2 linked regions of the Homo sapiens genome follow. The protein of the gene in region 1 interacts with the protein of each later gene in a biochemical or structural test. Each region holds a gene or a part of one and is shown in the gene's direction. Other genes may lie near its edges.

Region 1 (3,817 bases):
AACGTTATGGCTTTATATCCTGATTTTCAACCCTTAGCAGGGAGGCAGTGCTATGGTGCTGTGGATGGCTTAGAGTGACAGTGGCTTTGTACATTTTCTAGGTGGAGTACCTGTGCCTTATGAATCTATCTGTAAAGTCTTGGTGTACCAATTGTTGATTGTGTAAATGTCACTCTTTTGAAACAAAAACACCTAAGTGATGTGCTTTATCTTAAAGTCCTGACATACATTAGAGCTGTGGTTTTCACTGGGAGAGGGGTTTTGGCCCCCAGAGGATACTGGCAACGTATTTTTGGTTGTAGCAACTGACAGGAGGAGAGTGCTACTGCCATATAGTGGGTAGAGGCCTGGGATGCGGTTAAGCACCCTGCCATGCACGGGACACAAAAACAATTATGCAGCCCCAAACCCTGCACTACAGTATTGCCTGGGGGAGTAGGTTAACAAGATTAGGCATCTTAATCTGATTTGGATCCTCAAGAAACTTGTTTAACTGTGTTAAACAAGAGACCCTTATCATAGAAGCCGTTTTGTATGCAGCAGATTCTTTTGTCCTTGCCATTTAGAGTCTTAATATACCATAGAGGTCGAGGAACTTGTGTTCATTGACAACTTTGAGATGGATTAAAGTCATGGGATTTGGGAGCATTAGAGCACAAGGGAGCCTCAGAGATCACTTAATTTCTACCCCTTCTTTTTATAGATGTAAAAAACTGAGACACTCAGAGCTTTAGGACTCATAAGGTCTCAAGCGAGCTAAGGGCGGGCAGACAAAGTTCTAGGTACAACCCAGGAGTTAAAAATTTTAAAATAGAGATTCAGGCAAATGGGAACAAAAAACAAAACACACTGGACCTGACCTTGTGTAAAAGTTTCAAAGCACCATTCCCTGTGAGAAAATAAATAAATGCTTCGATGGGGGAGGGGTGGCATTAGCCATAGAGACTGTGGGGCACGTGCCTGGGTGCCCCAGTCCCAGAAAGGGGTAATTCCATTATATGACCTGTGACACTCCACTTCTGATGCCTGTACTGTCCTTTCCATGGCAAAGTAGGCAACAGATGGTTCCACAGACATAGCAGATGTTGCTTTTGAATCCAGGTACAAAACAGAACATTTGAGATTTTCTGTTCCTCCCTGCCTTATCGGTTAAGAGTAGAGTACATGAATGGATAGGGCTGGCTTGGACAGAAGGGAGAATTACAGAGGCCTCCTGAGTATGGAAGAAAAAAAGACACCTGGCATATATGGAAATGAGCAAGTGTTGGGGAAATTGTGGGAGAAATTCATAAGCTGATGAGGGGATATCTAATATAAATTCAATTGCATAGAACTAGGATTAAGAATCAGAAGACAATTCAAGCTTAGCTATTCTTTCAGCATGTAGAACAAAATAACTATGGGGGTAAAAGGAACCTTAGAAATCCTCTTATCTGAATCTTTTCCCTCCAACCAACTAACTGGGTTAGATAGCGGCAGAATCTGCAAGCCTCCTGTTCTATTGTACTTTCTCCTGCACCCACAGTCTCTACCATTCCATGTGTTTACCTAATGGGAAAGAAAATGATAGTAAAGAAAGTTATTGTTAATTACTTGGGAGAGTTTAAAAAGCATGGTATTTGTGAATGGCTGTTTATAGAAAGGAGTTACCTTAATGAGTTTATGATTATCAGAAAAGTTGTACACCATAGCCTGATTAATTACAAACATGTATACTCTCCTGTTTACATTGCTATGGTTAGCCATTAGGCTCATGATTATAGATTCTAGTTCTGGGTGCCAAGCTGTCCTCCTGTGGTAGTTATTTTATCTAATACTCAAATCTGACAGGTTCTGGCCATATAGGAAAGTTTTTAGTATGCCTTTGGTGGGAGACATAAAACCTCTGAAAAGTGTTAAGATAGTTTCTTATCATTTTGACAACTAGCCAAAGGGTGCACCTCAAAGCCAAGTACATAGTGATATATTTAGAAATGACTCAAGAGTGATAGCCCTTTTAAGGGATCTGCCCCCCCGCAGGTACTATGCAAAAGGGGTGTAGCAGTCTTTTCATTATCATCTTTCATCTGGCCATTCTTGTTACTGTTTTTCAGATGATGGGAGAGGAGACAGGAGTAGTTTTTAAAAAAATAACTGTTGGCTAGAAATATTTATTGGGATTTGATTAAAGTAACTTGTCTTTTAAAAATAAATGAAACCAAAATTGTTAGCTCAGATTTTCAAATCCCTTCAAAGTAAACATTTAGCAAGGCAGAACTTCTCTCTATGTTCATCCAGGAATTTGAACCTTCTGGGAGTTAATTTGCTTACAGTTGTTTTCATGACGCTTAAGGATGTTTCTTAGACATTGCAGAAAAGGAGCTTTGTGCTGTATCTGCTTTAAAGGCAAGATAGTTGTCTATAGCAGCTAGTGGTCAATAAGAGAAACCCAAGTGTAAAAATCATTTTACTGTTGTGTGGGAAACTAGAGGTTGTAGGTAATTGCTATACAAAGAAACAGATTAATAAGATATAGAGTAACAGGGTTAGTCAAAAAGTTTTTGAGAGGATTTTTACAGGAGATACTTGTTTAGTGTGTTAGGTTGATTTTATTAGATGAAGTGCTTTTCCTTACTTTACAAAGTAAAAGGAAAGAAAATATTGTGTATGCCACTGTTTATCGATGGCCTTAAGCCAGGTCAGCTTTTTCTGAGACTTGCTGCTAATTCAGTGGGAATTGGTGTTGATCATCTTAGAATGTTTTGTTTGCACATTGCATGTGACTGCCCTAGATGGCAGTATGTTCATGGAACTAGCCTATGAAATAGCAAAAAAGTTAAAGATTACAAGAGTTTTCCAAGATTTCTTTCTTGACCACCCTACTGCTAAAACAAGGAAAGATAAAGGCAAAAGAAACCCAGCTCCTACATTCTTTTGACCAGTGCAGACCCAGTGTGAATAGTGCCGCACAGCCAAGAGATATTCAGAGGGGATTGAGAAGTGATGTCTGGCTGCCTCACTGCTTACGTCATTGCAGAAGTAGCTTTTCAAAAACAGCTTAAGATTTATTAAGGAAACTGCAAGCCATGGGAATGCAGACAAAACCTTTCTTATACATCATGCTCAATCAAATACCCATATTATATTACATTACCATAACTCTGACCAGGCCTTTTTCCCACTATGTTATGCTAAAACAATTTACCATGCCTTTGGAATGTCATGGGCAACAGTCCGGTGAAATCTTTTCCCAATTAGGTAGCTGCCACCTTATCACTAAAACTATTTCTGTTCTGTGGTCATTTCCATTTCCTGCATTATGTAATGAGCACTCCTGTGTTATTTAACCAGTATCTGTGGGAGTCCAGAAAGTTGGAGCAGAAAGAACATGTAGTTCACTCTCACCATGTTGAGTATGGAGAAACTCCTGTTGAAACAAAATGAAGACAGGCGAATTGACGTGCTCCAGATCTTAGTTCTGTTAGCAGAACCAGAACTAAGATGGATCTTCTGACTTGCTTCCCTGGCAGCCTATCCAGTGTTCTTTCTACTAGATTGGCCACTGTAATAAAAATAACATCCTAACGTAACCATTTCCTTTATTAGATCTTTTGGCCAGAGTTATTAAAAAAAAAGCATTGATTAAAATTAAATTAAACTTAGTCAATTGTTTATCTTGACTTGTTCAAGTTATTTCCCTTCTTTCAAGCAGTAAGTGGTCAAAAGGTAGATAGCATGGAAGGGAAAAATTAAGTGTTTTATAATACTCATTCTGCACAATCAGCTGCTAAGTAATGAAGATATGATATTATCATAATTATTATTTTTACTTTACAAT
Region 2 (3,817 bases), on another chromosome or scaffold:
AGCTCTACCCAGGGTCACACAGCAAGTTGGGCAGAGCCAGAACTCAGGTGCAAGCCATCTGTCCCCAGTTCAGGGCTCAGGCCACTGCCACAGGCTGTCTCTTGATGCCTGGCTTCTCGGGTGGCAGCAGAAGCACTCAGGACCAGGCCTGGGACAGCAGGGAGGTTGCAGTGGGGGAAACCAGGGTCTCCACGTAACTGTGTCTGCCCTGCAGGAGAGGTGCGGATGCCCTCGGGGAAGACGGCACGGCCCAACATCACCGACAACAAGGACGGCACCATCACGGTGAGGTATGCACCCACTGAGAAAGGCCTGCACCAGATGGGGATCAAGTATGACGGCAACCACATCCCTGGTGAGTTAGGGGCTGGGCTGGGCTGGGGCTTGGGTGAGAGGAGCAGGCCGTAGCTTCAGTCCTGCCTTCCCTCTTTCAACAAATATTTATTGAGCACCCGCTGTGTGCAGACACCAGGCGAGGCCCCAGGGAGGCTTATACCCTGGTGGGAAGCAGACCTCCACCAGCTGGGTCCCTACGGCACAGACGGAGGGGGTTGGCAGGGAGGCTGCTGGAAGGTGCTGGGGCCAAGGTGGGCTCAGATAATCCCTGATGCTGACCCAGCCCCCTTTTTCTCTGTATCCCCAGGGAGCCCCTTACAGTTCTATGTGGATGCCATCAACAGCCGCCATGTCAGTGCCTATGGGCCAGGCCTGAGCCATGGCATGGTCAACAAGCCAGCCACCTTCACTATTGTCACCAAAGATGCTGGAGAAGGTGAGGGAGCTGCAGGTCGCAGGCTGGGGTGGAGACTCACCAGGGGCAGGGGTGAGGGCAGGACCTCTGATCTTGGCCACACCTCCACCTACAGGGGGTCTGTCACTGGCCGTGGAGGGCCCATCCAAGGCAGAGATCACCTGTAAGGACAACAAGGATGGCACCTGCACCGTGTCCTATCTGCCGACTGCGCCTGGAGACTACAGCATCATCGTGCGCTTCGATGACAAGCACATCCCGGGGAGCCCCTTCACAGCCAAGATCACAGGTGAGGCGGGTGTATGGGCATGTACAGCCCATGAGGCACACACACCGCATACAGTGCACTCATGTGCAAGCCCAGCCCGTTCAAGTCACTCGTGACATTAGGGCAGAGGCCCTTCAAGGTGTGAGGGGTCATATTTTGATAAATGTAAAAACACTCTGTTCTCCACGGCAGCTAAGAAGCAGTCAGCCACTCCTTGTGCCTGAAAACACATTGCCTCATTTAGTCTTTGAAGTCATTTGTTTTGTTTTTGTTTTTGAGAGGGAGTCTTGCTCTGTCACCCAGGCTGGAGTACAGTGGCACGATCTCGGCTCACTGCAACCTCCGCCTCCCGGGTTCATGCCATTCTTCTGCCTCAGCCTCCCAAGTAGCTGGGACTCCAGGCGCCCGCCACCATGCCTGGCTATTTTTTGTATTTTTAGTAGAGACAGGGTTTCACCGTGTTAGCCAGGATGGTCTCGATCTCCTGACCTTGTGATCCACCTGCCTCGGCCTCCCAAAGTGCTGGGATTACAGGTGTGAGCCACCACGCCCAGCATGAAGTCACTCTTAAGAAGTTAGGGCACGGATAATCCTTTTGATAGATAAGGAACCCCTGTCCCAGAGAGGCCAAGCAACATGATTACAGCCACACAGCGAGGAAGGGGTCTGGGCGGTCCAGTCTAGTGTTTTGTTATCACAACATCATGTGACTCAGGGTTAAAATGCAGGAGGTTTCCTTTAGGGATTTAGCCCACAAGGACTGAGGCAGCCACAGTGGAATTGGGGTACAGGCCCCTCTTAGTCTCTGGCAGCTCACATGTGAGTGCAGACTGCACTTTCCAGGCCTTGGGCCTCCGTGCACCTGGGAGTGGCCCCCCGTGTCTGTTGAGTCCAGGGGGGGCTGCTCAGGAGGGTTCCTGAGCCCTGTGAGGGCAGGGCCTGCCTGGAGTCATAGCAGCCTGATGCCCCAACTCCCCCACCAGGTGATGACTCCATGAGGACCTCACAGCTGAATGTGGGCACCTCCACGGACGTGTCACTGAAGATCACCGAGAGTGATCTGAGCCAGCTGACCGCCAGCATCCGTGCCCCCTCGGGCAACGAGGAGCCCTGCCTGCTGAAGCGCCTGCCCAACCGGCACATTGGTGAGCGTGGGGCCTCACGGGGACCTCAGGGGTGGGGGCCCACAGGATGCTCTGCCTAACACCCACTTTCCACAGGGATCTCCTTCACCCCCAAGGAGGTCGGGGAGCACGTGGTGAGCGTGCGCAAGAGTGGCAAGCATGTCACCAACAGCCCCTTCAAGATCCTGGTGGGGCCATCTGAGATCGGGGACGCCAGCAAGGTGCGGGTCTGGGGCAAGGGGCTTTCCGAGGGACACACATTCCAGGTGGCAGAGTTCATCGTGGACACTCGCAATGCAGGTACCTCCTGCCCCAGAGAGCCCCCATTCCAGCGGGTGCCTCCCACAGGCACTTGTCCTCGTCCTGCCCAGCACCCCCTTGGCCGCACTCTCTCCTCCCTGAAACTTCCTGACCAGTCTGCGTCAGGATTCGCATTCTGGGGCCCCTTGCGGGAAAGTGAATGGCCCCGCATCAGTTCTCTCCCTTTTAAGAGAAAGCTCAGCTGTCCTGAGTTTCTGTCCCTCCCTTGCTCACTGGAATCCAAGAGGCTTACCTTAGGGAATTTTCCAGACCGCCTGTCCCGTGGTGCCCCCGCTCCTCCCACTGAGCCATTTTTGTTAGTGGTCACTACACACATCGGTGCCCATTCTGGGTGGAGCCTGCAGTCTGGGGAGAGGAAAGCATTGTGGCTTGGCCAGCCTAGGACTGAGGGAGATGTGTTCCTTGCTTTCCCCCAGGTTATGGGGGCTTGGGGCTGAGTATTGAAGGCCCAAGCAAGGTGGACATCAACTGTGAGGACATGGAGGACGGGACATGCAAAGTCACCTACTGCCCCACCGAGCCCGGCACCTACATCATCAACATCAAGTTTGCTGACAAGCACGTGCCTGGTAAGGCTCTGGGCAGAGGTCGGTGGCGAGAGACAGGGAGGCCAGGAGGCTGGGGCTCTGAGGTTCCTGACCCACCCTTTGTCCCCACTTCAGGAAGCCCCTTCACTGTGAAGGTGACCGGCGAGGGCCGCATGAAGGAGAGCATCACCCGGCGGAGACAGGCACCTTCCATCGCCACCATCGGCAGCACCTGTGACCTCAACCTCAAGATCCCAGGTAGAAGCCTGGAGGACCCTGGGTGGGGCGGGTGGTGGGAGAGGGCTGGCCCGGGCCAGAGCCCACCTGTCGGGCCTCCACCCTGCTTCCTCACCCCTCGCTTCCCTCCCTCACCCTGGCTCCCTTGACCACACAGGAAACTGGTTCCAGATGGTGTCTGCCCAGGAGCGCCTGACACGCACCTTCACACGCAGCAGCCACACCTACACCCGCACGGAGCGCACGGAGATCAGCAAGACGCGGGGCGGGGAGACAAAGCGCGAGGTGCGGGTGGAGGAGTCCACCCAGGTCGGCGGGGACCCCTTCCCTGCTGTGTTTGGGGACTTCCTGGGCCGGGAGCGCCTGGGATCCTTCGGCAGCATCACCCGGCAGCAGGAGGGTGAGCACCGCACACTGGGCCGGCCGGGTCCTCACGGCGGGATGGGAGGGTGCTGCGGACCAGGCTTGATGCTGGCAGACTGGCCCCGAAGGCCAGGGCAGGTCTGAGCAGAGGAGGAGGTTTAACTGATGGGGGAGGGAAGGGCCAGGGCTAGGAGGAATCCCAGTGTTGCCCTGACATCCCCCAAAC

Evidence for each region.
Region 2: the proteins of PHLDB2 (region 1) and FLNC form a complex in vitro, tested with the Homo sapiens proteins (one study listed by BioGRID).

The regions. Positions count from the first base shown.
Region 1 is NC_000003.12:111,862,171-111,865,987, forward strand, and holds part of PHLDB2 (pleckstrin homology-like domain family B member 2), read left to right. Parts: intron 1-3,817. UniProt on the Homo sapiens protein: Seems to be involved in the assembly of the postsynaptic apparatus. May play a role in acetyl-choline receptor (AChR) aggregation in the postsynaptic membrane.
Region 2 is NC_000007.14:128,850,589-128,854,405, forward strand, and holds part of FLNC (filamin-C), read left to right. Parts: intron 1-214; coding exon 215-355; intron 356-643; coding exon 644-772; intron 773-812; exon of another isoform or gene 813-866; coding exon 867-1,040; intron 1,041-2,002; coding exon 2,003-2,164; intron 2,165-2,239; coding exon 2,240-2,443; intron 2,444-2,696; exon of another isoform or gene 2,697-2,809; intron 2,810-2,880; coding exon 2,881-3,033; intron 3,034-3,126; coding exon 3,127-3,249; intron 3,250-3,385; coding exon 3,386-3,628; intron 3,629-3,817.